2 separate regions of the Homo sapiens genome follow, and region 1 is linked to region 2. Evidence: fine-mapped expression QTL. A gene starts in region 2. The other region holds a variant in brackets. All regions are shown on one strand. Distances are from middle to middle. Region 1 has its middle 95 kb from the start of CXCL13. Region 2 holds the start of CNOT6L (CCR4-NOT transcription complex subunit 6 like).

Region 1 (16,013 bases), 120 kb after region 2:
CGACCAGCCTGGCCAACATGGTGAAACCCCATCTCTACAGAAATACAAAAATTAGCCGGGCATAATGGCGGGTGCCTGCAATCCTAGCTACTCAGGAGGCTGAGGCAGGAGACTCGCTTGAACCCGAGAGGCAGAAGTTGCAGTGAGCCAAGATCACGCCATTGCACTCCAGCCTGGGCAACAAGAGTGAGACTCCGTCTCAAAAAAAAAAAAAAAAAAAAGAGAGAAATCTATTATACAAAACAAGTGGCTCTGAGTGTCCCAAGGTGAAGCTATGGTGATTGCTCTGATTGTCCTCTTCAGGACTCCAACATTCATATTTTTTCAACAATACAGGAAGCTGGGGGCTTTCTGCTGAGGTCTTCCCTGAGGAGGGAGCCCTGTCTTGCCCAAGGTCATGCCCCATCAGGGAGGAGGGTTCCTGTCTGCAGCCAGTGACTGGTGAAGGTGGTGTTCTTAAAGCTTAGTCCCTTTGCATCAATATTTGGCAATTCTGAAGGGACAGGCCAGCTCCAGAGCTCCTTACGCAAATGTCTAAGGCCTTTGTTGTGACTACATTGCTTTTTCACTTCCCAAGTTTGATCCTGACAACTGTCTTAAGGACTTCTTGAATTCTAGTTTCTACTTCAAAATCTGTTTCCTGGAGCGTCTATCCTGTGGCAAAGAGTAACAGGTTTCGCATGGCAGGTAATATTAGTGCTCCCAGATTTTAGAAAATCTTGCCACAGAAAACTGTAATACTTGGCATATAAGTTCTATGTTTGTGTGTGTATCATAAGGATGTATTGAATACTTAAAACTGTAAAACATCAGGGAAAAACAGGTAGGCTTTATTTAAGAGATCAGTGTATATCAATTTGTGGGGATTTGTGATCTCTTTCCCATGGATTAGAGGTGTCTATAATAAGGGATTGCATTAAACAGAGTTTGATTGAATAAACAGAAGCTACCTTATGTTAATCAAGATAAATATAATGCAGTGAATCAGTTAAATGGGCAAGGGAAAGATGAAGTCAAATAGTAGATGGTGATGCAAACCAGAAATTAGCAACATCCAAAAGCCACTGTAAGCTTCAAGACACTAGATATTGGGAAGAGATGCCACTAACAAACAGATACAGGAAACTGGTTTGCCTGTCAGGAGTTAGAATCATGGCAAGGGCTGTCCATAGGAGGTGGTATCACAGAAGGAGGGGCTGTCTTTTGAGGGCTGGGATCAGAGAAGGCTCAGGCTCTGCTGGAAATGCTACCTGAAGTAAGAAAAGAAGAAATTCCCTGGCTTTCCTTCCACTCTTCCCTCCAGTTTCCCTCCAGGTCTCCCATTGGCTGAACCTAACCGTAAGTGATGGGTAAAGAAGCCTAGAAAACGTTGCTTCCTTGACACATTCAGAACAGAGGAACAGTGGGGAATGCATGCAAGACAAAGCAAGCAAATGATTAGTACATATGCTGTTTTTACGACTCAGCATCCATTCTCACACTTATAGCCATTTTAAACTGTGATACAACCACAAGCTAATGCTGCTATATAACAGGATGCAACTGTCCTTTATATGAGCATGCTTCCCTCACCAGTGCATTTCTTAACAACTTAGTAAAAGGAGAGTCCTCTGGATCCTTCAAAGCAAGGGTATGGTTGGCAGTGGTTAAGCAGTTTGCACGCTGTGAATCCATTCCAGATTTCTAATTCTCCAGACTCCTTTGCCTGTACTGTGCTATCTAATACTACAGCCACTAGCCTCATGGTTAGCGGCTATTGAGCACTTGAGATAATTTGTTAAAAACATATTAAAATGTGGGTGCTAGAAAATTTAAAATTACATTTGTGGTTTGTATTTTATTTCTGTCTGAAAGCATTGTTCTTCAGTGTGCCAAGCAACATCTCTACTTCATATCTTACTGGCCTTATTCTACTAAACTAGCAGGTGATTGATACCACCGCTGGTGCTTGAGTGAGTCACCACAGGAAATCCTGAATCCAGGTATACATGTCTATCTCAATAAATTCCGCCTGATCCAACCTTTGTTTCGTCCTTTTGAATAGTCCTTTAGAATATATTTTCATACATGTCCCCTACATTTAACATAAATTAACAACATTTTGCAGCTCCTTTGGTGTATTTGCTATTTCATATGGCAGCAGATCATTCACTTTCATCTGGGCTATGTTGGATCAAACTCTTGTTATGAGATTAGAAACGATGGGTGGTTTGAATGGGCTCTGGAAGAATAAGCATCCTCTTCTAGGGCATCTGCCACTAGTGAAGTCGTGCAATGGTTTTATGCAAGTGAAGATTATTTGCCTCAGTTCGGGTGTTAAATGGAAAAACTGACAAAAGGAAAGCTGCTTTTGCTGGAGAGGAAGGCTCAGGGGAATTCAGCATTCAGAACCTCATCCCTGTCTGCCCTTTCAAAGTCTCGGGTACCACTCCTTCCCAACCAGGTCCTTTACCTCAGCATAAAATACCTGATAGGACTACACATGTAACTGATGATGCATTATCAAGCCTTGGGCCTGATACTCAGTCATCTGCCTTATGGTGATGGAGGTATGGAATGTGGCTATATAGCTTGATTTTTGGGTTAAAAAATTTAAGGCCTTAGGCTTATCTTTTTCTTTGTGCATACTCTTCAGGGCAGTCAGAAACATCCATCCTATGTAATAATTCTTGTTATTATTATTACTATCATAACAGTCAAATGCAATAGTTACTTGACCAAAGTCTTGCCTTCAACTTGTACCATGCCTTGAGAAACTGCAGCTTATAGTTTAAGTATGATATCGCTGCCTACCACAAATTGCTAGTGTCCCATTTCTTGCCTGTAAGGAGGTCGTCACTGCATTCATGATCAAAAATGACAACACAGTCTTAGACTTCTGTGTGGAGTATCAGTAAGAAGCCCCTCAGAAAACCAGAAATCACTCTGTGTATAGCAGACAGAAGACATTTAGTGCAGGGGACTTGTTGCACAGGTAATAGAAGAGTTGTGAAGCCAAATGAGAAGATATTGAGGAATCCTGAAATTAGGAAAAGCAGGAAAGTGCTACCACCATTTTGGCTGATGAGGTAGAAGGGAAGACATAGTGTTCTCAGAGCTCAGAAACTGAACCATCTAGTAGGAGCTAGAACTTCTCAGTGGCTGTCTTGTGAGATCTGGAAATACATAGAATTATCCCAAAGGAGTTGCTGTTATGGAAAAAAGTCACTAGGCCAGGCGCGGTGGCTCATGCCTGTAATCCCAGCACTTTGGGAGGCCGAGGCAGGCGGATCACGAGGTCAGGAAACCGAGACCATCCTGGCTAAAACGGTGAAACCCCATCTCTACTAAAAATCCAAAAAATTAGCCGGGTGTGGTGGTGGGCACCTGTAGTCCCAGCTGTTCAGGAGGCTGAGGCAGGAGAATGGCATGAACCCAGGAGGTGGAGCTTGCAGTGAGCCAAGATCATGCCACTGCACTCCAGCCTGGGCAACAGAGCGAGACTCTGTCTCAAAAAAAACAAAACAAAACAAAACAAAAACCAACACCAAACAGTCACTGCCAGAGGTGCCACTAAGCAGAGAGAGAAAGGGAGAAATACCCTGGCTGCTTCTCTTCTCCAGGGTATTTCTTCAAGTAATCCATTAAAGCTTCCCATTTGCCAAACCTATTCAGAAGCCAGTTGTTAAAGGAGCCTGAGAAATGTACACCTTCAGATACAGGAGAATTAGGGAAGGATGAGAATGAATCTGAGAACAATCAGGCAAATGACCAGCACAAGAAGCATATCCCATTCTCAGTTACGTACACACTATGTGCTGTGGATAGAGTCCTAGAGATGATATGGTACTTCAGAGAAGCTTGCAAATATATGGCCATATCATATATATTATGTATGTTGTTAGTAGTAACAGCATGAATGCTAGAGAAATCTTGTGTAGTTCTAGCATTAGTTCTGATTAGGGTTAGTACCTATTTTTTATACAGTATATAGGTGAAGTTATTATACATACCATCTTATGAGAGGCATGAAATTACTTAAAATAGCAAGCTTTTAAATAAGATTCTACCTAAGTACTTTCCTTATTCAGAAACCCAAAGAACAACATACATTTTCCCTTCTATGAGCTTGGCTCTCTTTAGTGATTTGCAACTACATAGCCAAGATGATTTGTCTAAACTTAGGAGACTACAAACGATGTGTGAAAATGAGGTACTAAACATATGGAAAGGAAATAGTATGGTGCCTCCTTTGAGATATTTATTTCTGCTGAAACTTTAATCTCTTAGTATTTTCACATCTATAAAATATTCTTTGTGGGGGAGGGGGAAGGAAACTCCCTTCTGCTTTAAGAGTCCCATTTTAAACCAAAAATGCACTTGCCCAACTTTTTATTTATTCCCTTAATAGTTTTGAGCTGTACCTATGGAAAGTCAGGTAAATTCAGAAAGCTTGAGTTTAGATATTTTACATCCTATACCACGCTTTCAGGGGAAAAAAAGGGCTTCATATTTTGAATATGTGAATTCTCTACCCTGTGGTCAGGAAGTTAGATTCAGGCATTGATCCAATGATCCCTGGAACATCTTCCACTTTTTTCCCAGTGGAAGGAAGAAAGATTTGCTAGAGGGGCTGACAGCATGAGAATGTGCTGCTACTTTTAACCCTCCAGACTGGGTTTCTCCCCAACACAAGTGACCAAGCAATTGTTTCTGAAGAGTCTTGAATGATATCCACATGACCAGTTTCTCCATTTTACATGATAATGTAAATTAGTACTAAGGGGATGTCTTTGGTTAATTACTGCAAACATTTGAGTCTGCAAACTCACCCCTTACAAACTATATGACACTGAATACTAGATTAAATGTGAATAAGGCAAAAGATGAATGTTTCCTCTACTATCCTAATGCAGGCCAGTCTCCAGGCATACTTTTTCTGGGGGGAGAAGGGGGTACAAAAAAAAAAGACAGAGAGCCATTGGGAAATTCACAGGGTAAGTTAGGGAGGTGAGAGGATACTGAAGGTTTTTGCAACTACCCATTTTTGGAGGGTGGAGCAGTTTTTTGGTTCATCTTTGCACAGAGTCCTCAATAAAAGTTTATTGAATTAATTAAAGGAGACAAATATGACAGCCCTTCAAATACTTAATATTGTTATATGGGAGAGGCATTAATAAGTCTTTCTGTAATAGCCACTTTTTGTTCTTACTTTTATTCCCTTAAAGTCACACAGAATAATAAATGGGAGAGTTTCTAAATTATTGGAATTGTTTAAAAATTGACCACGTAGAGACTTTTTTGCTATTACTTCTGGACAACCACAGAAGAAAATATGCTTTCTGTTGATGATCAGGCTAGACGACCACTAATTAGCCTCCCAACTCTGCCGTTTAGAATTATAGGATCTTCAGTTTTCATTTTCATTCAGATACTTATGTTCGTATTCATTAATCAAAAATGTCTTCAAAGTTTCAAAGAGTTAAATTATAACTGAAGGAATTTGGAGACAGACCTGTCTCCAGGGCTGTTTTAGTAAATTAAGGTATACCTGTATGTTGGAAAACCTAAGCAGGCATAATATGTGTTTATGGACCAAGAAAAATGGTCATAATATAGCATTAAGGAAAAAAAAAGTTAGGCCAGTGATGGTTTAAAAGTAATGGACAGAAGGTTTCTGAAATTCTATTTTGAAGTTTTAATGTTTAAAAAATGTTTTTATCAAGTATGTGTATGATATATATAAATAAACTAGGACTAGAAGAAATGTAACTTCTAATTTTCTTATCTGGACCAATTTACTTATTTGGCATAACTGAACAACAGCTCAACTCTTAACATAATTGAGCCTCTTTTATTCTGCAGAAAGTTTGATTCCATTACCCTCTCACCTTGAAAGAAGGGAAATAGTTTGATACTGAAGGAAAGGGAGGAGTCTACCCTTGTCCTTTGTTTCCCTCATCATACACTTAGTCTTTAAACTCTCTTTACCTGGAGAGACGCATTTTAGTGGAGTAATGAATCCAGAAACCAGAGATGGACTGTCTATTCCCAGATATCAAATTAATGATCTTGGTCCTTTTTTTCCTCTACCTTTCTATAATGCTCAGCCATGATAAGCATCCATTTCTTTTGAAAAGTCTCTGTTCTCTTGGCTTCTGTGAAACTTCAGAAGATTTGAAGATAATGTAGGAAAAATAATTTATATCTTGTTCATTTTCTCTGTCCACTGGTCTTGAATTATTTCAAGCATCAGCCCTACTTGCTTTCTTTCCTTTTCATTTTTTCCATCCATTATTCCTATTTAGATGACTCCCTAATGTCTGTCTCCACTCCTAATCTCTTTTAGTTCTCTATTTCTAACTGCCTCTTGGGAAATTCTTGGGCACACCTAATTTCACTATCTTTGAAACTAAATGAATCGTTCATCATTAGTCTTGTTCCTCCTCTTGTGTTTCTTAGGTGGGGTGAGTAAAAGATTCCAATCAAGACTAGTTTAAAGTTTGAGGAGCCATGGAAAGAAAGATCAGTCAAGACCACTAGGACTTGAGAACTCCTATCTTTCTCCTCTCCATTTTATTCAGTACAGACCCATTATTACTAATTTAAGTTGCACAAAAGGCTATCAACAGTCTATTTACTGTGCTCTTTTATAGTTTTATTAATTTTATGGAACTGACATAAGTTCACCACTAATCTCAGTCTCTCATTCCTGTTTATGCGTTAGGCTCTTAAGTTTCCCAAATTCAACTTCTTTCATCTTGTAGATATTCAGGAACTTAATCCATGGTGACATGGTGGTATACATGTGTGTTTGTGCTATAAGGGAATAGGGTATTGCTATATAATCAAGTGTGGGAACTCATAAAATGGAAAACTTATCAAGAAATTAATTGAATCTGCACCTCTCCTCTGTACTCTTCCCAAATTCCAAGCTACAGTGGATGGGCAGAGTTATGAACCTATAATTGTCCTCCCTTTTTCTCTAATATTATCTAGAGTTATTCCTTGATCTGATTACGTTCTGAATACAAATGGAATGACTGGAAATGGCTCTTTGTATAACAGGACTGAACTGTGTTTTGAACACCTGCTGCCTAAATACATATTAAAGAGGCTCCTCCAAGTAGATGCCAGTGTCCATCAGTAAAAATACTCAGCTGTCTGGTGGGACAAGTGTTAGGTCACGTGGGCTCTCAGCAACTATCACCATATGCTGAAAATAAATGCCAGAAAAAGAAATAAGAATTTTTTTTTAGCATGTATGGCAAAGGCCTGAGAGTAACCTCCATTATGGTTTTGGGAAGCAAACAATATTTTTGTGCCCATTTTCTGGAATTAGGCAATTATTATACAAAATTATGATCTTGCCTGTCTGAAACTACAGTGGTAGGACTGTCACCTTCCAATGGAATTGTGTATTCAGGGGCCACCAGTTTTTCTTTAGTGACAGTGACCTGTGTACTTTCAGGGACATAGGGAGGAGAGCCCTGGTGAAAAGATAAAATGGGAGAAGTATTTGCTCTATTCTGCTGTTCTATTCCCCTTATCTGTGACTCAAAGAGGTGCCAAGAAAAGAGTCTGAGATGACTTTGGGAAGAAAGAGAGGGCAGAAGAGAGGGAAATAAAAGGGTTGATTTTTTATGGGGGTGGCATTGAAGAATTGCTAATAGAAGAAAGAGTTACAGGAGCTGGTGGAAGCAATAAAATTGTTTAGGCTACCCGTTGGCTGTGGGTTTATGTTGTTAACATGCTGTACCTAGAGCAGAGTATTATATTGGCATTGACTTGTTACTACTATAAATATCTGGAAATGTCTTCTAAACTAATAGCAGTTGTTTTCCTATCTTTTAAAAAATATATACGTAGGAAAAAAAATG[T/G]TTGGATAAAAGTACATCAAGAAGGTTACTACTTGTAAATTATTTCTTATATTCTGTTTTTTTCTCACTTAAGTATTTTTCCAGGTTAACACATATATGTCAAAACCACAGAATATTATGAAGCCATTCAAAATGATTTGGTTGTGCTATTATATGGCTTAATTTTGTATTTATTGGATATTTAAGTTGTTTCTAATATTTTCCTATTGTATATCACTGAAACATAAATGTACTAGAATTTTTCCTTTTTAATATCAAAACTTACTTTGCTAATGTTTAGAATCAGTGGAATTACAGGGGAGCATTTAGGTAACGTGTGACTTACCAAGCTACATGTGGAAGCTTGAGTTTCTAATCTACCTCCACCATTCAAGTCCAGGGAGCAAGAGGGTTAAACTCCTAGCAGATGGTGCTGCTGCTAATGCTGCTGCTGACTGAGCATGTCAGGAATTTAAAGAGTTGCTTAAACAGGGTTAATATATGGCCTGTGGGAAGACAGCTGTTGTGTAGCAGAATTACAGGTCAGGAGGTTAGCCACATTTCCCTGAAAACAGAGGACTCGCCAGAGTCAGAATCAGTGAAAGCCATTTAGGGAAAGGAAAAAGCAGAAAGGTTCTATTTAAGGGAGCAGTTGAATGAGAGGGTAGAAAGTGCTAGGGTAGAACAGAATAACTACCAAATATAGAGGGGAATGGGGGAATGAAAGGAGACAGAAACAAGCATAGCAGAACACTGCCCCTACAGCCTCCACTCTGGAGATGCAGAGAGAGGCCGTACCACCAGCCCATTTCCCAGTTCCAGGGTTCGTTGTCTTATGCTTTCACCAGTATAGGGATGTGAGTTGGGAGAGCTCTGATCCTGCCAGGCTATTAGACGTTTAACATGGCTAATTGGCCCTGTAAGAGGACACAATGGGATGCTACCAAGTTGGAAAAAAAAATTAGCCTCTTGGAATTAAAATCTCATCAAGTAGCTGATATCTAATGCAGTCCAAATTCTGCAAACACCTTGAGGGTCTATTCTTAGTGAAGCACTGTGAAAGGGTATTACGGAGGTTTGAAATTTAAAAATGTGAAACACCCATCTCAGCTCTCAGGTAGTTTATTATATAATACAAGGGTGATGAACAGAGGAATTAGATAAACCCATGACTGTAATACAAGGTGACTAAGAAAACTGCTACCGAGAAAGTGGCAGGAGGGTCAAAAACAAGAGAGAGACCAGGACTGGTGAAGAAAACAGTGAATGTTTCCAAAGGATGTAGGCAAATATTACAAAGATGTAGGAGGGCATTACACGTGAAAGTGATCACATAATCACAGGCACTGAGTGACTAGTCTATCCCTCATACATGTTCATTTTAAAGTACTCTGAGGTTTCCTTCTTTTTTTTTTTTTTTTTTTGACAGAGTTGCCCAGGCTGGAGTATGGTGGCACGATCTCCACTCACTGCAACCTCTGCCTCCAGGGTTCAAGCGATTCTCATGTCTCAGCCTCCCAGGAAGCTGGGATTACAAGTGTGCGCCACCATGCCTGGATAATTTTTGTATTTTTAGTAGAGACAGGGTTTCGCCATGTTGGCCAGGCTGGTTTCGAACTCCTGACCTCAAGTGATCTGCCAGCCTTGGCCTCCCAAAGAGCTGGGATTACAGGTGTGACCCACCGTGCCAAGCCTAACCTGAAATTTCTTTATGGAATAAGTCAGTCTTTCCTCATATTCGATTTCTGGCATAAATGGGTATTCAATAAATATATTTTGAATATTTGAAGACCCCAGTTTTTATATTGGCCTATAGAATGATATAAGGAAAGACCATAGACTTTAATGCTAGATAGATATGGGTTCAAATTTCAATACATTTTCTCGCTGTGTGACCTTGAACACAGTACTCATTCTCTGAGCGGTTTCCTTATCTATAAAAATGAGGAATATAAGGATGGACTTTGCAAAGTTGTCGTAAGGATTAAGGAGGAAGACATGTTCATACACTTGCTTGGTAAGAGCTAGTGTTCTGCTTTCCCTTGCCTTCACCCTTGCCCTGACCGAGTCTGTGTAGCTGCTTGCCACTTCCTTGGTAACACCAGAGGGCAACATCGTCCCATTCTTATATCAAAGTTTTTCAGGAGTGAATGCTTCTTTGCAGACAGATTTTTTTAAATGCTTCAGCAAGGGAGGAAATAGAAACTCCATGCTCCTGAATGTGAATAGGGCGATAAGGGCTAAGCCCTGGAAAGACTTTGGAGCAGCTGCTGTGTTCCTCTGTGGGCAACAGCTATGGGCAGACGCTGTTGGAAGGCACTCCTTGTGCCGTCTATTTCTGCCAGCTGGGTTAAGAGGACTTCTCGTGCTAACAGAACCTTAAACTGGGAATCTAAATCAATCGGCTTGTTTACTACTAGAAAACCATTGTGCTTGTGTGATATATCTGAAAAGCCTGCTGGAATGTGTTTGCCAGAGTCTCATTACTATGGTGACTATGTATTCTAGTTAGCCTGGGACAGTCCTGGTTTATGCCTGTGGTCCCAGAGTAATTATTAGTGCCCTCTTTTACACTCAAAGTATCTCAGTTTTCAGGATAAGTTACATGGCCATCCTAGTCAGAACATTAAAAGGGATACTCACTAACAGTAAGGATCTGACGTAGCAAGAGTCCTCTGGTCGGTCTGGTTAAGACCGTGCATGGGCTTTGGAATCAGAAAGTGACATCTGGGTTAAAAACCCTGCTCTATCTGTGTGTCATTGGCAAGTTAGTTAACTTCTTTAAGCCTGTTTCCTGATGTATAGATTAGGGACAACAGAACATGAATGCACTGTCTCATTTAATCCTCCTAGTGAAAATGCTTACATGAGGCTCTGGGACAGTGATACATGGTTGCTACCCCTGGTATTATTTTTAAGATTTGCTGTAAGATTCAGGCTGTCACCTTAGCTGTATTGATTGGATCTCTGGATTTGAGGGAGTTGAGGGCAAGAGTGAAATGAATTGCACAAGGTTACAGAAACAATTATTGAATTGCTCAAGGTTAGAGCCAAAAAGAGCACCCACACCCATCTCTCTGTCTAGTGCACCAAGGTGGTTGCTGTTTCTGTGGAGATAATTCAAGGTTAAAGATGTGACCCAATGTCTATCCTGAAGCCTTTAGCAAATACTGGGCACAGTATTATTCTGAAGCATAGAGGAGAATAGACATCTGACTATTCTACTGCATTATTCTTTTCATTTTATTGCAAAATGTTTTATGTATGAATAAAAATAACCTTGTCATGAACACCAGAAAATGCACCCCTATTAAATCCTAACATTACTCCATACTTTTTTTTCAAAGAAATTAAATGTCAATGTCATATTCTATTCATCTTATCTGTCCCTATCTTCCCCTTCCAACAAGAGAATACAATAAAAATGTTTCAATAAGGAAAAATAGAAATTAAATGTCACATACAATTAAGACCTCCTATGTACCCCTCTTGTATAGACTTTTCCCTTATTAGATAATATTTTAACAGGTTTTTAAACTTAATTTAAATGGTGTCATACTATATCCCTCTGCAACTTTTTTTTCGTGTTGCTTAATATGTTATCGAGATTTATCCATGCTGGTAAGTGTGGTATACTATTACATTATATGAATATTCTGCAGCTCATTTACTCATTTTCCTTTTCATAGATGTTTTCATTGGTTCCAGTTTTCTGTAATTATGAACGATGCTGCAATGAGCATCCTTATGCATAAGACTCTCATACATGTAAGAGTTTCAGTATGGGTTATAGCCACAAGTGGACTTGCAGGGTCTTGGAGTATTAGTATCTTTGACTTTACTCAAACTGCCAATTTTTGCCAAATATTACCAAAAATTCTCCAAAGTGGTTGTTCCAATTTTCATTGTATTTAAGTTTTTTTTTCCCAGATGAAAATATATTATTTAGTTAAAAAAAGAATATGGGCCATAGTTATTCCAGCAACCAAAGAACAGAAAAACACACTCGTTGTAAAGTATATGCACTTTTAAGAGGTAGGGAAATGAATATTTATTGGATGTCTACTATGGGCTGGGCCCTAAGCTAAGTGATTTACATTTGCTTTTTAATTAATCCCATTACCTATCTGTCACCAAATCCTCTTAATTCTGCCTCGAAAAATCTCTTCTTTTCCCTTTTACTCTTTCCTTAAGAATTTTATTTTTTGCAGAAACACAGATGACACTTGCTGAGTTAAACCAACTGATCTTGCTTCTAGTCTTTGTCCTTGCCAATTTATCCCTTGCAGTCTTAGAACAATCTTCCTAAAGGTGTAAATGGGATCTTGTCACTCCCTTTGGTGGAAACTTTTTAGACTTTTCCATCGACTAGAGGATAAACTTCCAACTTTTTGGTTGGGGCCAGATTTTGAAAGATTTTGCTCTCCAACTTCACCTCATTCCTACTCTTTTACGCTTCATTATCCTGCACAACTGATGGACTAGTTCCCCACATAGGCTGTGTACATTTCAAACTGAAAAAAGCGTAAGCAAAGCTGTGGAAGTTTGAATGTTCTTTCCATCACCCCCCACCTCAGGCAGATTTACCACATCATAGGGCTTTGAGTGATTCATTCTGTCTGGAGTAGGGAAGGGAGGAGTGTTGGGATGGCTTGCTAGAGAAAGGAAGGGTGATTCAGCTATTTGTCATGAATAGGGAGACCACATAACTTAACTTATATTTAACATGTAACTTAACTGGGACACCTTTGAAAGAGGGAGGTTAAAATAATAAAAATTATGTAATTTTTTGAATGTATTAACTGTGTAACATATTGGCATTGTTACATTGGTCTGTAATAGAACTATCTTATAGTTCTATTTTAAAACTCTTTGCAATAAAGTATCATATACTTATGTACATTAGTTCAAAATATTACAGCTACAAAAACCAAGTAAATTTATCTTTAATATTGACATTTTAAACTGAAGTTACAATAGCATTCACAATGATGAGAACTATTTCACTTTTGTCAGAGTGAACTTCAAACCTCAATTTGCTGCAGCAGATGAAAACAATGAGCTATTATTGGACTTAACCTAACTGACTTTCTCTTTGAAGCATCTGAAGACTTAGATATAAAACTGGCATCATTTAACACTTTGAAAAGTTCTTCTGCTAATGGAGCCAACACATCGACAGTTCTCACTTCATTTTTGTACATGCAAAGAGCACTTGGAATTGAAAATGAACGAAATAATGTAGAAGTTTGCTCTAAATGAAAAGTCATGTTTCACTGGGGGATATGTTAGCCCTGAATTCTGAAGCTGCATATCTTAAGTTGGTTTCTTTGGGTGTAGTCTTTATATAGTAACTACTAACTTTCTTTTTATTAAAGGAAGTACCTTGTCTTATTTCTTAGTAAACACCCTATTGAAGTGTAATTCACCTACTTCACATAAAACTGCATAAATTATAAGTATAGAGCTCAATGAACAACCTTGGATCAAAAGATAGAACATTGATAGCACCCATTCTCCCACTGTTATATACACCCCCTCCCCAAGGGGAATTGTTATCCTGGCACCAGGCACCATCTTGTAGTGCTGCCTACTTTTGAACTTCATATAAATGGAATCATACATTATGTATTTTTCTTGCTTCTGGCTCCTTTTCCTTAATATTATATTTGTGAAATTCACCCATGTTGCATATGGCAGGAGTTTATTTCTTTTCTTTGCTATAAAGTATTCCTTTGTGGGAATGCTACAATGTATGTAGCCATTCTACTACATTTCTACTATTTATTTCCAGTTCTGGGCTATTATGAAAAATGTCATTATGAATACTGTTGTACCATTTGGGGGGTGCATATATACTCATTTTTGTTGAGTATATGCCTAGAAGTGGAATTGTTGGGTCATATGTTTCTCAAAAGAAGACATACAAATGGCCAACAGGATACAGTTGATCCTTAACAATCCTGGTTTGAACTATGCAGTTCTACTTATATGTGAATTTTGTGGGTTCCACAGGGCTGACTGTGGGACTTGAGTATGCTCACATTTTGGTATTAAAGGAGGTCCTGGAACCAATAGCCTGAGTATATCTAGGAATGACTGTTCATGAAAAAGTGCTCAACATTAATTATTAGAGAAATACAAATTAAAACCACAATAAGATGATCTCACTTCTGCTAGAATGGCTATCATCAAAAACATGAAAGATAAGTGTTGTCAAGGACTTGGAGAAAGGGAACCCTTTTACCCTGTTCTTGGGAATGTAAATTAGTACAGCCATTTTGGAAAAAAGTATGGAGGTTCCTAAAAAATTTAAAAACAAAATTACCATATAATCCAGCAATCCCACTTCTGAGTATTTGCTCCAAAAGTTTGAAATCAGTTTGTCAAAGAGACATCTGCACTCTCATGTTCATTGCAGTACTATTTACAATAGCCAAGTTTGGAATCAACCTAAACGTCTACCAACAGATGAATGAATAAAGAAAACATGGTAGGCTGGGCATGGCAGCTCATTCCTGTAATCAGCAGTTTGGGAGGCCAAGGTGGGGGAATCACTTGAAGTCAGGTGTTTGAGACCAGACTGGGCAACAAAGCGAGACCCAGTCTATGTAAAATATAAAATACAAAAAATTAGCTCAGCATCATGGCATGCATCTGAAGTCCCAGCTACTCAGGAAGCCAAGGCAAGAGAATTGCTTGAGCCCAGCAGTTTGAGGCTGCAGTGAGCTATAATCATGCCACTGCACTCCAGTCTGGGCAACAGAGTGAGACCTTATCTCAGAAAAAAATAGAAAAGAAACTGTCGCCTGTATACATAATGGAATAATATTCAGTCTTAAAAAAGAAAAGAAATGCTGTGATTTGTGACAACATGAATGTAATTGGAGGCCATTATTCTAAGTGAAATAATTCAGGCACAGAAAGACATATACTGCATGATCTTAGTTATAGGTAGAATCTAAAATAATTGAACTAATAGAAGCAGAGAGTAGAATATGATAATATGGTTCTGTGGTACAAAGGCTGGGGCATGGGGAGAATGGGGAGATGTTGGTCAAAGGGTACAAAATCTCAGACAAGAGGAATTACTTTTTGAAGATCTATTGCACAGCATGATGAATATAGTTACAGTATTTTACATTTTGAAATTGCTAAGAGTAAATTTGAAATGTTCTCACCACAAAAAATATTAAGAATTTGAGATGATAAATATTTAACTATATTAATTATTCTACATTGTTTTGCATCATTTTGTGTCCCATTGGTTATATTATACAAATTACATACATTTATACAATTATAAATTGTCAATTTACAATTAGAAAAAAGAATTGCTGAGTCATAGAGTAGGCCTATGTTCAACTTTAATCGATCCTACAAAACAGACACTATGCATCTGGATTGCTCCAGGTCTATTTCCCACACGCATTTCACCTGTAATTTCTCAGGTCTCCTTTCTGGAGGCCTGCTAGTTTCAGGCATCTCACATGCTGGGGAACGGGCCACTGCATAATTGGCTAATACACCATGTGGCCATTGAGGGCAGCATCATGAAATAGTTCACTCTTCTGATTTCTCTACAGAGAAGGGGTAAGCCAAAGAAGTGGGGCGTGGTGAGCAAGATAGGTACTGGTAAATAAGAATGTGTCTGGAGACTAGTTATCTCCTTTCCTAGTGGGATATACTTGCTGCCACTGGGCTTGATGATTCGCTTTTACCTGAGGAGGGGAAATATCAGGAAAGTGGTCTGAGACAGTGTGTGGCAATGCCAGGCCAGGTAGGAAATGTGTGTTTCCAAATAGGTACAGAAGATGGATCTAGCCTATGCTCATACATACACTCCAGAATTGGAACCACAGAGCATAGTTGAGATTTGGGGTCGTAGGTTTGCTGTTCCAGTGTGGAGAAAAAGGGTATGCACATCAGAGGAATATAGTACGAGGAACCAAGCTGGAAGATGTGGCTGAGTCTCTCAAGAGACTGCCAAATCCTAGGGAAGCTACTTGGGATAAATACCTCATTAATGAGCCGGTTAGGGCACTGGCTCCCCACACCATGTCTATTACTATGTCTATCGTGGCTTCATCAGTGGCGATTACCACGAGAAAGGGAACATCAGCATTGCCTGGACTGTCCCATAACCAGACAACCTCTTTTCTCACCCTTCTGAGT
Region 2 (16,013 bases):
ATAACTCTGGAGTGCATTAGGATGAAGGGGCTAGATTAATGAAAATATTTAGTAGGCAGAATTGGTAGATCTTGGTGAGGCTGGGAGAGAAAAGTTAAGGATTACTCCTAGGATTCTGCATTAGGTGACTATTCATATGATTACATGATTTTTAGCGTGATAGTACCATTTTTAATAACAGAGGGTCATGCAAGACCAAGAATCAATTTTGGGGAAAAGACAATGAGCTCAGTTTTAGACATATATATCTTGCAATGTGTATAGCCTGTCTAGGTGGAGATATCCAGGAGGAAATTGACAGTATAGATCTAAATGTGTGATGAGAACTCTGGATTGAAGATGTATATTTGGGAGTTGTAAGCATAAAGATGGTAGTTAAGACCTGTAGATGTGATCATCTAAGATTTAAAGTTTGTTTGGGTCCAATATGAAAAAGGGGCTCAAAGTTTGAGGGGCTCAAAGAGGAAAAGGGATCCATTATGGCCTCCATGCCACCAAGTATCTTCCCACTATGTAGTCAGTGTCTGAAATTGCCGTTGTTTTGATTTATTCTTTTAGGTTAAGGTTTATTTCTAAATAATTACCTCATAAAAATACCTTTGGGAGGAATTAAACAGAGAAGCTTAATAAAGAGAACAAATGAACTAGGTATCCAGAGACCAGTTTCTAACACTGACTGCCTGGGTGATGTTCATTCAGCAAGTCATTTTGCCTCAGATTCCTCATGTGGAAAATGCAGAAGTAGGACCAAGTGATCTTCAACGTTTGGTAGACTACGATTCCACCAATCATAACGACTTAGTTTAGTTCAGTGATTTTCAAACTTATTGGGCAGCAATAAGTTTGAAAGAACTTATTGAACGTTCGAGAGTTCTTTCTTTGAAAGAACTTATTGAAAGTTCAAGAGTTCTTTCTTTGAAAGAACTCTCATGCAGAAACACAATGTATTCAGATGTTTTGGTTGCAGAGGTCTAACTCAAGTTAGTTTGGATGTAGAAGAGAATTTACCAGTTAATTTAGCTATATTATGTGAAAAGGTGCAGCTGGGACCTCAGGGATCACCAGAACCTGAGACTGGTGCACCGGCAGGAATTGTTCTTTACATTTCTCATTTGAGTGGTGGCTTCATTCTACACAAGGCCATTGACCGTTCTGACTTCCTTCTGGGCTCTACTGCTATGGTGGAATAGCCCTTCTCCCCTTAGTTCCACCTGAAAACATCCTGGGGAAGAACTCTGCTTGCTTTGACTTGAGTCCTATGTCCACCATTGTAGCCAAGAAGTTGGGGGATTCTTTGAGCTGTAGCTGCACTAGAATTACCGATCATGGTGCAGGTAGAAATAGTTTCCCCAAAGACAGAGAGCATTGTTCAAAGAAAAAGGTTACTGGGCAGACAAATAGATGGTCAATATATTAAGAGATAAAACACAGGCTTTCTTGTTCAGGACCCATCTACCTGGTTCCTTTTGTGTACTCTATGTAGCTTCTGAAACATACCTTTGAAAACCTCAAGAAGATGCTTGGAGTACAGCTTTAAAATAGTTATCCCTCAGTATCCTTGGTGGATAGTTTCTGGACCCCCTCATACCAAAATCCATGGATCCATAAGTCCCTTATATAAAATGGCATATATTTGCATATAACCTAAGCATATCCTTCCACATACTTTAAATCGTCTCTAGATTACTTGTAACACCTAATATAATGTAAATGTTATGTGAATAGTTGTTATACTTTGTTTATGGGGTAATGACAAGAAATAAGTATCTATACATGTTCAGTAGAGACATAACCATCCACTTGTTTTTCTGAGTATTTTTGATCCTAGGTTGGTTGAAACCAAGGGTATGGAATCCATGGAATGTGGAAACCACAGCTATAGAGGGCTGATTGTAATAGATTTTATTAATTGGAAAGCATGCCAGTCACCTCCAAGGCGTAGACAAAATGAAGCACTGGATATTTATTGGTGGTGGTGGTGCTCGCCTAGTAAAACAATTTTGGGAATATAGGAGTGTGGTGTTAACTGGTGGGGTTGAGGTGGAGATTCTAATGTATTCAGGATCAAGGGACTTGAGCTGGGAAGTGTAGAAAGGGGAGGTAGGACATCTGCCTTCAAAGTTCAAAGATGAACTCGGCTTACTTTATCATTTTATGGAGAACTGATGGATCACATGGCACACTATTAATAATGGTGAAAAATGTTCATCTTTGGCTAAGATAGTGGGAATGATCCTTGGTGTCATCCATCCACAGCCACTCCAGAGAAAGGAACAAGTAGGAGATTGATGGAAAGAGAGTTGAAGACCCCAGAAAGGGGCAGAGGCAATGAGAAAAGCCACGTGTCTTGGACGAGTATGCCCACAGTAGATGGTAAGAAATATAAGAATAAGTGGGAGATGGGAGAGACAGAGGAGGGAGGGAGGGAGGGAGAAAGGGGAATAAATATGTACAAGATAGGAAGATGGGGAAGATTGTAGTTCAGTAAAAGTAAGACTATGTCACTGAAATATAGTTTGAAGGCCCTGTCAGGAGGTCCAGGAAGTAAAAATTCATGATTATCTTGATTAATACTTGCTTTAAAGTTATTTTTTATTAATAAATATGATGTAAAATATATTTGTTACTAATTATACCTTACTGAATACACTTAAATGTGACATTTTTATTGTTATGTGGCTATTAGTATGAAAGTATGTATTAAATAAAATCAAATTTGCCAGGCGCAGTGGCTCACACCTATAATCCCAGCACTTTGGGAGGCCAAGACAGGCAGATCACTTGAGGTTTTGAGACCAGCCTGACCAATATGAAGAAACCTCATCTCTACTAAAAATACAAAATTAGCCAGGTGTGGTGGTGCATGCCTCTAATGCCAGCTACTTGGGAGGCTGTGGCAGGAGAATTGCTTGAACTTGGGAGGCAGAGGTTGAGGTGCGCTGAGATAGTGCCATTGCACTTTAGTCTGGGCAACAAGAGCAAAACTCTGTCCCCCACCCCCCCCAAAAATCAAATTTAATAGATTATCAAATAGTACTAATTTTCTTTTTCTTTTTTTTGAGATGGAGTCTCACTCTGTTGCCCAGGCTGGAGTGCAGTGGCGTGATCTCGGCTCACTGCAACCTCTGCCTCCCAGGTTCAAGTGATTCTCCTGCCTCAGCCTCCCGAGTGGCTGAGACTATAGGCACACACCACCACGCCAGACTAATTTTTATATTTTAGTAGAGATGAGGTTTCACCATGTTGGCCAGGCTGGTCTCAAACTCCAGACCTCAAGTGATCCGCCTGCCTCAGCCTCCCAAAGTGCTGGGATTACAGGCATGAGCCCCACCACACCTGGCCAAATAGTACTAATTTCTTAAATAAAAAAATTGAAATCTTTGTCTTTTGAATAAGCTGCTCAACAGAATTTCAGAAAAGAGACAAAAGAACAGTTATAAGGGACCTTATAGGACCCGCTACCTGTGTTACCAACAAAACACGGAGAGATAGGAATATTTATTCAGCTCAAACATTAATTGCGAATTTGGAAAAGACACAGGTGGTCTCTAGAACATGAAGCACCTTTTTCTTTCATTGAGTAGGAATAAACCAATTCTCTAATAATACAAATAAACATAATTGTTGTTTCAGAACAAATTGTACCTATATACTGCTGCTACTAAACCAATTTGGTCAAAAAGGCCACACTTAAGCCAGAAGCTTCAATTGGATAAATCATTTCTTTAAAGAGATTTTTTTTTTTTTTTTGAGATGGAGTCTCACTCTGTCACCCAGGCTGGAGTGCAGTGGCACCACCTCGGCTCACTGCAACCTCCTCCTCCAGGATTCAAGCAATGCTCCTGCCGCAGCCTCCTGAGTACCTGGGATTACAGGTGCCTGCCACCACACCGGGCTAATTTTTGTATTTTTAGTAGAGATGAGTTTTCAGGCTGGTCTCGAACCCCTGACCTCAAGTGATTAGCCTGCCTCGGCCTCCCAAAATGTTGGATTACAGGAGTGAGACACCACACCCACCTATTTTCCTATTGCATTATTTCTAATCTTAAAAACTGCAATAACTGACAAACGTGAAAAATCCTCAGAAATGAGATATCGAAAGCAGGTTACTCTCTGTAGCAAACTTTGATCCACTATAAAATTTCTTTTTTTTTTTTTTTTTTTTTTGAGACAGAGTCTCACTCTGTCACCCAGGCTGGAGTGCAGTGGCACAATCTTGGCACACTGCAAGCTCTGCCTCCCGGGTTCATGCAATTCTCCTGCCTCAGCCTCCCGTAAACTGCTTCTTAACAATGGCTAAAGTGCTACTCATTTGTTGTCGTTTCTGGGGTGTCTTTTGAAGCGGAATCTTATGAGGAACTATTTTTTTTTTTTGAGACAGAGTTTCCCTCTTGTTGCCCAGGCTGGAGTGCAATGGCTAGATCTCGGCTCACTGCAAACTCTGCCTCCCAGGTTCAAGTGATTCTCCTGCCTCAGGCTCCTGAGTAGCTAGGATTACAGGCGTGTGCCACCACACCCAACTGATTTTGTATTTTTAGCAGAGATGGGGTTTCACCATGTTGGTCAGGCTGGTCTCAAACTCCCGACCTCAGGTGATCCACCACCCGCCTGGGCCTCTCAAAGTGCTGGGATTACAGGCCTGAGCCACTGCGCCTGGCCTGTTTGTTTTTTAATCTCACTGAAGACAATTTCTTGGCATTTGTATAGTGCCAACTATCTGAAAACTATTATTTCTCCAATGTCATTCTAATTGCAAATGAGAAAAACAGCAATCTATTTTTTGGATAATATAGTTAACATATAAAAGTATTGCTTTCCTTTTGTTTTTAGTGAGTCAATCAATTTGATATGGTATAAAGAGGACATCTTTGAGAGTAAATTCTAAACTTAACCTGCATTAAAATAAATGATCCTATGACAACATCCACTGTCCACTATTAACTCTGAAAGTTACAATTACCCCTCCCCACCATGGATTGTGATGCATTTACTACTTAAAATTTAGAGGCCAACAAAGAACATCCCATATATAAAGTTGACCTTCAGGACCACCAAAGTCCACCATTTATTAGTGCTTCTTTAACATCCACAATGGCCCTGTCATTTTTCCCCACCTGTCACTACTGCTAGGCAGCCTGTGAGAGTGGGCAGATGTCAAATGGCTCACGTGTAAATGCCAGTGCTGTCAGCCCATCCTCCTAGACATTGTTGTGACTATTAATTTTGTGTCACCTCTCATACTTTCATTTCTGGTTTGTTCTGTGAGAATTTCCTGTTTATGTGTCAGCTTCCCCTACAATGATAGTGAGTTACTTAAGAAAAGGGACTATATATGCTTGGCTGTGTGTCTCCAATGCTAAACATAGCATCTGGAACATAATATGCCCTCCATATGTGTTTATTGTATATGAATGAAAATTCATTGAATACTCACAGAAAATTCATATAAATTTATTGTTATTTAAAGATGCTTAAATCTGTGAGGCTATCACATTATCTGATTTACATTTTTTCAGGTATTTATTTTCCTCTTTCCTTCTATAATTGGTGGTATTTCTCCCTGGGAGAGTGTTTGTGTGCTACGGAGAAATACTGTGGCAAGATGCCATTGAGGCAGGTCCACTATTTGGACTCCTGAAGTGACTTGCTTGGCTTTGCTGCTTACAAAGCCAAAGATAATTATTCATTTTATGTCAGCCTAGACTCTTAGATAGTTGGGAAAGAGTGAGACTTCTTCCAGGCTTAAGGCCATTTTGACATGTTTCACAGAAGATGGTGTGGGGCTGGTGTTGCTAGGGAGGGAAATGGAAAATTAACATAGGTAGAAAAGAAAATAGTCTGTCGTCTTGTGAACTGAGGGGCTTTTTTACTCACTCATTCACCCATCCTGGTGCCAAGATGAAAGTGGTGCAATAGTTCTGCAATTATGGACTCTTGTAACAGCTGTTCAGTTTTAGCTAAATGATGATTTGCATTTTCACCGCACCTTTTCCCCCAAGAGATGAAGGCATTTTACATTCAGTAATAAGGCCTAAGATGAATTGCAACCAACGCAACGTGCTTAGTGTGCTAAACACTCCTGTGGGGGAAAAAATACTGAACATTGCTAATATACCCTTGACCAACACTGGTAAATACACGAGCCCGGGCATGCATTGAGAAAGAGATTAAAATTGTGCAAAACTGCAACAGCAGTACTCTGCCTCCACAGCCGGTGTAATTTGCTTTTTGGACTGCTGGCCCAAAAAAGCTGAAGCTGGCCCACAAAAACAAAAACAAACCCCAGAAACTTAAAGTATCACAGCCAGGTTCACCAAGTAAACACTACTATTTCTAGTTTGCATTTGGATGTTTTCATTCTGTAGATGGCATGGATAAGCTACAAACAACAAACTAAAGTCTACAACGAGAAGGGAGAATTAGAAAATAGGACCGGGTTATCGCTGAGCGTCACAGGTTCTTTTATTTACCTTTGACGATACAACTTACAGATGCTATATGTTTTTAAAAAAAATCCACCGAATATGTCAGGAAACATTTCCTTCGGTCACTTCACCTCCCCTGGCGTCTCAGCCACCTAGACCTACGCTCTGCTTCGCTGTCAGGTCGCCTCGGGCGAGGAGGGTGCAGTAAACAGCGCCCACACAAGAACCCGGGGTGAGGCGGTTTCCCGTCTCTTCGCCAAGGCTCTGTGGATGTGGGTTTCTGAAACTCTACCACTCTTCTCAGCCCCGCTCCTCGCTCAGGCCAGGAAAAAAGAGTGAGAAAACAGCCAGAGCAAAACAGAAAACCATTAAGAAGCCCGGGCCTCCGCGCGCTCACCGCGACAAAACGCGGCGCACGGGGGGCGGGGCCAAGGCGCTGCGTAGGAGCTCCGCCCCGTCACCGCCCCGCCTCCTTCCCCTCACCCCAACCCTCCGCGCCGGGGAGTGACTGACTCCCGCCAGCCCCTCCACGTCAATCAACCCTCCTCGTTCTCGCACTCTCTGCACCTTGTTATTAATCTCAATACCGATATCGCCCGGACGCCTCTCCCCCGGCCCTCGGGGGTGTGAACGTGTGTGAGCGGGAGCGAAGGCACCGAAAGCTGGCGTCTCTGTTCAACCTCGGCCCCAGCAGCACCCGGCGCAGCGGCAACCCCCGCAGCGGCGGCAGCCCCAGCACCAGGAGGCCAAGGCCAAGGCCAGGCTCTGCGTGGCTCTCGGAGCAGTAGCCGCGGCTCCGGCCCTGCGGGGGCGCAGCTTCCTTCGGCTGGGGCCTTCGCGCCGGCGGCCGCGGCCGCGGGGCCTCTCTTGCGCGCCTGGGGTCACTGTCCTCGAAGCCCGGCGGCGCGGCCCTCGTCCCCCTTCCCGACCCCCGGTCTGTCTCCTCGCTCCCTTCAGCCGCCTTCCGCGCCGCCGCCTCTGCCGTTCGTCAGGCGGCCCGGCCCGGCCCGCCCGCCCCGCATCCCCTCCGGCCGGTGCCTCTCCCCTCCGGCGGGCTGCCTGCATGTCTTTGCTGCCCTCAGCCCCGCCGCCACCGCCGCCGCCGCCTCCCCCGCCGCCGCAGCACCAGCACCAGCCGCCCCGTCGCCGCCGCCGCCGCCGCCGCCCGGACCCCGGCGCGCTGAATGCAGGTGAGGAGGGGGCGCGGGCCCCCCGAGACCCCGGGCCCGGGTTCCCTGCGCGCCCGCCCGCGAGCCCCGGTTACGGGCCCTGTGTGCCGCCGCGGCTTCCCCTCGGGGCGGGCGGGAGCGAGGCCCGCCGTGGGTGTTTGTGTTTGCGTCTGCGTCTGCGGCCGCGGCTCTGGAGGGGAAGCATCTGTGGGGGCCTGGTGCGCGCGCGCGCGCGTGTTTGTGTGTGTGTTTCCCCTGCCGCGGGGAAATGGCTGCTGTTGCTTCTGGGCCAGAGGAAGAGAATGAGGTAGAGTGTTCTTTTGCCTCCGAGTAGGACCGAGAGTGTTGGGAAGAGGAGCGCGTCCCCGGGGAAATGAGGTGGGAGAGGGACAAATGTGCGTGTGGGTGTGCGAGTTGGGACTTTGGCGGGCGGGGAGGCGGCCCGAGGACCCACGGCGAGTGGGTGTGTGTCGGGTGACTGGAGGGGGCGGCGGGGCTGACCCGCGTCTCTTCAGAGGCGGGCGAAGGTTCCGGGGTGTGTGTGTGTGTGTGTGTGTGTGTCGGGGGTGGCCCGGGGCCGGGACCCCAGAGTGGCGTGTCCCTCCCGCTTTGTGGCTGCGGCTCCCGAGCCTCGCAGGTGAGAGCTGCTCCTAGGGGGCCGGCCGGGGAGGGCTGAGTGAGTGCGGCACACGCGCGGCAGCGGGGCTGGGAGAGCTGCTGGTCGGTGCCGCGCCGCTGATCCCGGGGCCGCCGTTCCCCGGCCGCGGCAGGAAGCGCGCCGGCCTGCAGCGCGGCCTAACTGCCTGGGCGCCCGCCCACCTCCCCGGACGCCTCCCGGGACGGCGAGCCCGCGCGAGCCCACGGCGCTGCCTCGGGCCTGGGCAGGTGAGGGTCGGAGGCGGGACTCGCCGATTGCCGTCGCCGTGGCCGCCTCCGCGTCTCCTGAGAGGCGAAGGCTTATTTTGGCGTTCCAACTGCAAGCCTTCGCCCGGCCGGCTGTGGGACCCGAGGGAGGAAAGTGAATCAGAACAGTCAGTCTTGGGAATACGCGGTGTCGTGTTCCCTTCTTTTCATCCTTCCCCTAAGGCTGTGTGGAGGGACTGAGTAAATATTTTGGATTTTTGTTGCAAATACTTTGCCGTTGGTAAGATTTTTTTTTTTTTAATTAGACAAACATTTTCTTGGAAGGGCTGAGGAAGAAAGGGAAACTGGCTTTCCTGGCCTGTGGGATTGGATGGATTTTGTGCATTTGAAATTGTTTTATCCTGCCTCCTAGGGGGAGAGGCGTGTACGCGCCGCCGAGCTGAGGAGCTGGGTGAGGAAGAGGAAGTTACTGGAGCTGTCATCCTGCTTAACTCGGTCGGCTATTGAGCTTAGACTGTTTAGGTGGATTGTGTTCAGGGAGTTTAGCTGAGCCGTTTGTACACATTGGAAGCACAGTGTTACATTTTACCGTATTGCCTCTAGTTATCTTGTCAATCAAGATAGGCTCAACAAACATGTTTTCCTCAGTCTCCAAAAACTAGATCAAGCAACCTCTGTTGTCTACTCAGTATGTGCTGCTGGAAAGCTATTTTGAGAATAGCCTAAGCAAAACCCAGTTGTAAAGATAAACCTGCTGCCAATAGGTCTACAGTACATTTCAGAACCAAATACAAATGGCATTTGGATAATTATTTGCTAATGTGCTTTTCTACTCCAACCTCATTACATTTGTATGTAGTTAGATCATTTAGCTAGAACCGTGCTGTGGATAAAAGCATAATACAGTTTCGATCCTTGTAGGCCGTACTCTGTGTCATGGCCAGAGATTGCTCTTTGCACCTGGTCTCACAAAGAAATAGTGTATGCTGTTCACGGGGAAGTGGAGGGAAGAGAAGGAGGGGCGAAGAGCTGTTCTCTATTACCACTACTGGAAAAACAATTTAACATACGTAGTTAGTGGGAAAAGGACTTGTTTTACAGACTTCAGTTAGCCTCCCAGCTGTGTGATTTTTCCTTAGCTGTTTGACCTTAGGTAACATATCTATAAGCCACAGTTTTATCAGTCACAGAGAGCTAATACCTTTATAGTAAGGTCGTTTTGAGAATAGAATGAGAAAACATATGTTTGGCATGTAGTAGATGCTTAGTTAAATTTTAGTTCTGCCTCCTGCAGCCCTGACTATGGGCATTGAAGAACCTTTGCAAACACAAATATGATTAATTATTTAGAGCAATATTAAGTAACTATAACGTAAAAAAGACAATGGAATCTTTCAGAGCCCTTCAGTATACAAAAGGTATATATATAAACTTTAATGTATATAAGAAGTTTTTTTCTAATAATAAAAATAGTCATTAAAATAGCCTAGTTATTTATAAAAATAGTCATACTTAATTTTTTTTTCATATTTTCAAATAGACCATCTCTCAGTTTCATTATTCTTTATGATTTTCGTTTTGTAGCCCTGGAAAAAAATTTTCAACCTCTATATAGCACATGTATGTTTCAATACAGTTAAACATTAAAAAGGATCAAGGAACCAAAATTTAGATAGATCCCCAAAGTTTAAATGCTACGAAAAATGCTAGCTCATGTTGACTGATTTGGTAAATAAAACTTCTTAGAATATTTCTCTGAATATAAGGTAAAATCCTCTGTCCACTTAATTTTCAATAACTTTCCATTTTTAGTATTTTCTCTGGAGTAGGAAATGTGTTCATTAAATTTTAACTGCTGTGTGGAAAAAATAATGTCATGGAGAGGTATGGAATTTAAGGTAAAGATAACAGAAAAGTTAACATAAAGATTGTTTTCTTTTTGTTTTGGGAAAAGACAGGACAGAGAATGTGGGAGTTTGATTGGTTTAAGTTTGTCATGGCCCTATTTACAAATGCCGGGTTTCCCAGTAGGGCTTACGTAATTTATTTGTATCAATAATGATAAGCTTTAAAAAATATTATTTTCTAAAATTCAAACTAAAATTTCAACACATTCAGTATAGCTTTTATGCATATTTTTATATAAAAATTTCTGTGAAGGTAAGAGTCACAGGATGGGGAGGGGGAAGCTCTCATCATTGAGGGGCTTGAATTTTTATAAATAACTAGGGGCAACTATTAGAATGCAAATTGTGATTTTCTTAAAGTGTGTGTTGTGGGAGTGTGTATTTACATTGAACAGAATCTTCTGCCATGTGGTTATATTTAAAGGAATAATTCTTACCTTAAAACTATAAATGATACTTTTTAATACCTTAGAAACAAAGAAATAGAAATGAATCTGCTCTTATTTAGTATTTGGTAAAGTAATTTTCATTGGACTTTATGAATTATTTTAAAAGACTTTATATATATATTTTTTAATTTGGGAGAATTGGGAAGAACATTTCCCTGTAGTAATCATGAAAACAGATGATATTGAACTATAAAGATATTTGGATATGAAGTGGAAGTACTAAGGTTATTATTTAGACTAAAGGAATTATGTTACAACAAAATCAAGGTGGAAACTTGTTTAGATTTTAAAAGTTAATGTTACTTAAATGGGCTTTTAAGCAATCTTTCCAAAATATCTGTTATTAATGTCTTTAATTTGGGAGAATTGGAATACTTAGGAATTTCTGTATGTATTACTTTGGGTAATGCTAATCAGAGTAATAAATACATTCCAAAATTTCAAAGAAGTTTACTTGCTTTCATGACAGTTCCAGTGCAGATGTTTACTTGCTTTCATGACAGTTTACTTGCTTTCATGACAGTTCCAGTGCAGGTGCTCCTGGTTAGCAGGTTTCTTGTGGCTTTCCTCTTATGTTGTTTAGGGACTCATACAACTTAGATCTTGTGACTCCACCATTTCTTAGGGCCTTGGAGTCCTCCCTATTGCCTGAAGACCATTTCTTAAGAAACTCCAGACTTAAATGACAAACATTCCTCCAAATTTTATTGGCAAGATTTGTCACAGAGTCTTATTTGAATGCAAGGGGAGTGGGAAATGTCCCTGGCAGGTGGAAAGCTTGGCCATCTCTGCTACAAGGGGCATTTCATGGTGTTATTTTAGATGTTAGCATATATTTATGAAATTACATCCAAAAGGTGAATTATGATAGTTAGGAATTGCTTTCCATCTTCAAAGAGTAAAATTGGGTGTGAGTGGAGAGTGGTGGGGAGAGGAGAAAGGAGGGAAGAGTCACAGGAGTGGGAGGGGGAAGCTCTCATCACTGAGGGGCTTAAATGACAAGTGAGTTTCTGTAACTATTTAAAGATATAAATTTTTCAGAGAACATTACAGTTGGATTCTGTAACCTTTAGTGGGTCTCTCCTGTAGTATCCAGTTATTGATTGTCATTGTGCTTTAATGAGTTCTGGCAGTTTGAGTTATTTCTCTTTGTATTTTGAAATCAGTTCAGATCAGTAGGACAAAACTCTGAATTTCAGTTTCTGGGTATAGTTTCATAGGAAACACATTTTTTGAATTTTCTTCCTCTGTTATTGGGATAGGTGATGAAGATTACTTTATACTTTGAGGGAAATCTCATTTAGGTGGACCTTACCATATTCTCTTGTTTGTTGCTGCAGTTTTTATAATTCTAAAGTTATTAAAATTAATACATGTGAGCCTTAACCCAGAAAGACCAATAAAATCATCAAGTAAACAACAGAGGCTTAATTATTAATTTGTGCTCATGCTTTGTGATGAAAATACTACAACTTTCTTTTACTAACTGCACTGACACTGGACCTCTAATACAGTAAATGGTATTTTATCACTGGACAACTTTAATTGAATCACAATTTATTCTATGATTGTGCAGGTTTATTATAATGTGAAACTTCAGCTCTGTGTCACCTTTACTTATTTTTTATTCTAAGAGTTTGGTTAGGGATCTCTGGGGAGTTATATATAATCTCTTTATTTCCCAAAGGGAAGATTTTGGAATAGTCTGGTTAACTTCTCCATGGTAAATACTTCTCTAACATCTTGCATCTTGAAAATTGAAAACCTAATCTGAGGACCCACTGTGCACCTATTATTGTACCCAGTTCTAAAGAGAAGTATGAAAGATGTAGAGGCTTATAGTTTGTGAGTAAGGGAAATAAAGCATGTAATTTAGTTATTTCAAAACAAATGAACTAGTGCAAGTCAATATGATATAAACTGTTTATAGACATTCTGAGACATAAAATGGAATGTCAATTGGGTCAGGAATTACTTAAAGGGTTGCTTTTTTTTGGACAACTTTTATGAGGTATAATTTAGATACCTTAGAAGTATCCATTTAAATTGTACAACTCAGTAGTTTTTAGTATATTAACAATTGTGCAACCATCACCATAGTTAATTTTAGAACATTTTCATTACCTAAAATATAAATCCTGTATCTTTCAAGAGTCACCCTTCATTCTCTTATGCCCCTAGTTCTAGGCAATTACTACTTCCTTTCTCTATAGATTTGGCCAATTTTGGACATTTTGTACAAATGCAATCTTAATATATGGTCGTTTATGATAAGCATATTTCACTTACCGTGTTTTCACGGTTCATCCGTGTCATAGCAAGTATTTCATTCTTGTAATGGCTGAATAGTATGTCAGCATAAGAATACACCACATTTATCTTATTCATGAGCTGATGGACATAGACTTTTTGGCTATCATTATAAATCATGCCGCTGTGAACATTCATGTACAAGTTCTTATGTATGTATGTTTTGAATTCTTTTGGGTGTGTACCTAAGAGTGGAATTGCTGGAACATATACCACTTTGTGTTTAAACTTTTGAGGAACTTCTAGACTGCTTTCCAAAGCAGTCGCAGTATTTTACATTTCCATCAGCAGTGTATGAGAGCTCTAATTTATCCACTTCATGCCAACAATTGTTATTATCTCCTTTTTTCATCATAGTTCTTCTAGCAGGTGTGATTTGATCCTGGTTTTGATTTGCATTTCCCTGATGGCTAATGATGCTTTTTATGTGCTGTTGGACATTTGTATATCCTCTTTGGAGAGAAGTGTGTGAAAAGACTCAAATTCTTTGCCCATTTTTATAATGAGTTTTTTAATTATTGAGTTGTAAGAGTCTTTTTTATACTCTAGATGTGTCCCTTATATATGATTTGCAAATATTTTCCTCCATTTTGTGAGTTGTCTTTTCATTTTCCTGATGGTGTCATTTGAGGCACAAACGTTTTTAGCTTGATGAAGTGAAATTCTTGTTATTATTTTTGCTGTGCTTTTGGTGTCGTATCTAAGAAATAATGACTTCTTGTTTCTAATCTAGCTAATCTATCTAATATATCTATTTCTAATCTATATCTAATCTATTTCTAATCTATCTAATATATCTAATCTAAGGCCACAGATATTTACTTCCCTGTTTTGTCCTGAGAGTTTTATAGCCTTAACTCTTACATTTAGATCTTTGATCCATTTTGAATTAATTTCTGTACATGGTCTGTTGTAGAAGTCTAATATCTCTTTGCCTGTGGGTACTTAGTTGCCCCAGTACCATTTATTGAAAAGACTGTTCTTTCTCCATTGAATTGTATCATCACCCCTGTCCAAAATTAATTAACTGTAAGTGTGGAGGATTTATTTCTGGACTTTTAATTCTATTTCATTGATTTATATGTTTATCCTTATACTAGTATGGTCTTGACTACTGTAGCTTTGTAATTGAGAGGTCTGAGTCCTCAAACCTCTCAAAGTTTTTCCTTTTGAGAAGAAAAAATGAAAAACTCTTTTTTTCTTTTTCAAGATTGTTTTGGCTATTTGAATCTCTTGTGTTTCCATATCAATTTTAGGATCAGCTTGTCAGTTTCTGCAAAGAAGTCAGCTGGAATTTTGATGGGGATTGTGTTAAATCTGTACATCAATTTTGGGACCATTGCCATCTGAATATTAGGGCTTCCTGTCCATGAACATGGGATGTTTTTCTATTTATTTAGATCGTCTTTAAGTGTCAACAGTGTTTCATAGTTTTCAGAATATAAGTTTCATACTTCTGTTGCTGCATTTCTTCCCAAGTATTTTATTCTTCCAGATGATATTGTAAATGGAATTAAAAAAAATTTGGGGGGTTTTTGCATGACAAGTGCATAAAAATACACTTGATTTATGTTTGTTGATCTCGTATCCTCCAACCTTGCTGAATTTCTTAGTTCTAATAGTTTTTTTTTTCTTTTTTTTTTGAGATGGAGTCTCACTCTGTCGCCCAGGCTGGAGTGCAATGGCACTGTCTTGGCTCACTACAACCTCTGCCTCCTGGGTTCAAGTGATTCTCCAGCCTCAGCTTCCTGAGCAGCTGGGATTACAGGTGCCTGCCACCATGCCTGGCTAATTTCTGTATTTTTAGTAGAGATGGGGTTTCACTGTGTTGGCCAGGCTGGTCTTGCCGACCTCGTGATCCACCTGCCTCAGCCTCCCAAAGTGCAGGGATTACAGGTGTGAGTCACTGCACCCGGCCAGTTCTAATAGTTTTTAAGTGGATTCCATAAGATTTTCTACATACAAATATCATGTCACCTGCAAACAAATGAAGTTTCAATTCTGCTTTTCCAATATGGATGCATTTTAGTTCCTTTTCTTGCTTAATTGCCCTGGATAGAACCTCCAGAACATTACTGAAAAGAAATGTCAAGAGAAGTCACTTGAGTTGCAGCAATCCTTGTCTTGTTCCCAGTCTTAGGGGGAAAACATTCCATCTTCTGCCATTAAGTAGATGTTAGCTGTGATTTTTTTTTTTTTTTTTTTTAAACTGCTCCTTGCGGAGAAAGGCTAGCCCATAGGCAGGCAGTGTGCGGAAAGTAGTGAGCTATAAGTTTTTCATTAATAGCCTTTATCAGGTTGAGGAAGTTCATTTCCTAGATTGTTGAGTGTTTGTTTGTGTGAGTGTGTGTGTTTGTGAGAGAGTGTTAGGATTGAGTTTTGAGAGAATTGTGAAATGTGGATTAGAAAAATAAAGATGCTATGTCAGGTAATAAGGGGCAGATAATAATGCTTATCTTGCTGGAGGAAGAGGGGCTAGATTTTCCTCTTTTTCCCTCTCCCTTTCTTCCCCATTCCTTTCTTGTTTTTGTTTTGAGACGGAGTCTTGCTCTATCGCCCAGTCTGGAGTGCAGTGGCCTGATCTCAGCTCACTGCAACCTCCGCCTCCCAGGTTCAAGTGATTCTCCTGCCTCAGCCTCTTGAGAAGCTGGGACTACAGGCTAATTTTTGTACTTTTAGTAGAGACGGGATTTTGTACTTTTAGTAGAGATCACTATGTTGGCCAGGCTGGTCTCGAACTCCTGACCTTGTGATCTGCCCGCCTCAGCTGCCCAAAGTGCTGGGATTACAGGTGTGAGCCACCGCGCCCGACCCTTTCTTGATCTTTAATCATCTTCCCATCAGTCCACATGCACATTTGGAGAGCACTTAATCTTTTACTGATCTGTA

Evidence for each region. PIP is the estimated chance that this variant, and not a neighbour inherited with it, causes the effect.
Region 1: its variant is fine-mapped to the expression of CNOT6L in unexposed skin (GTEx, PIP 0.95).

The regions. Positions count from the first base shown.
Region 1 is chr4:77,692,410-77,708,422 of GRCh38, reverse strand. No RefSeq gene overlaps it. Among named protein-coding and RNA genes, the nearest start is that of CXCL13, 95 kb to the right of the region's middle. The variant T/G (reference allele first, on the strand shown) is at 7,860.
Region 2 is chr4:77,811,192-77,827,204 of GRCh38, reverse strand. It overlaps CNOT6L (CCR4-NOT transcription complex subunit 6 like), which reads left to right and starts at 7,837. Exons shown (of 12, transcript NM_144571.3): 1 at 7,837-7,901. The coding sequence starts at 7,897. RefSeq lists an enhancer at 5,298-5,347 and silencers at 6,791-6,940, 7,201-7,360, 7,401-7,500, 7,991-8,060, 8,141-8,540.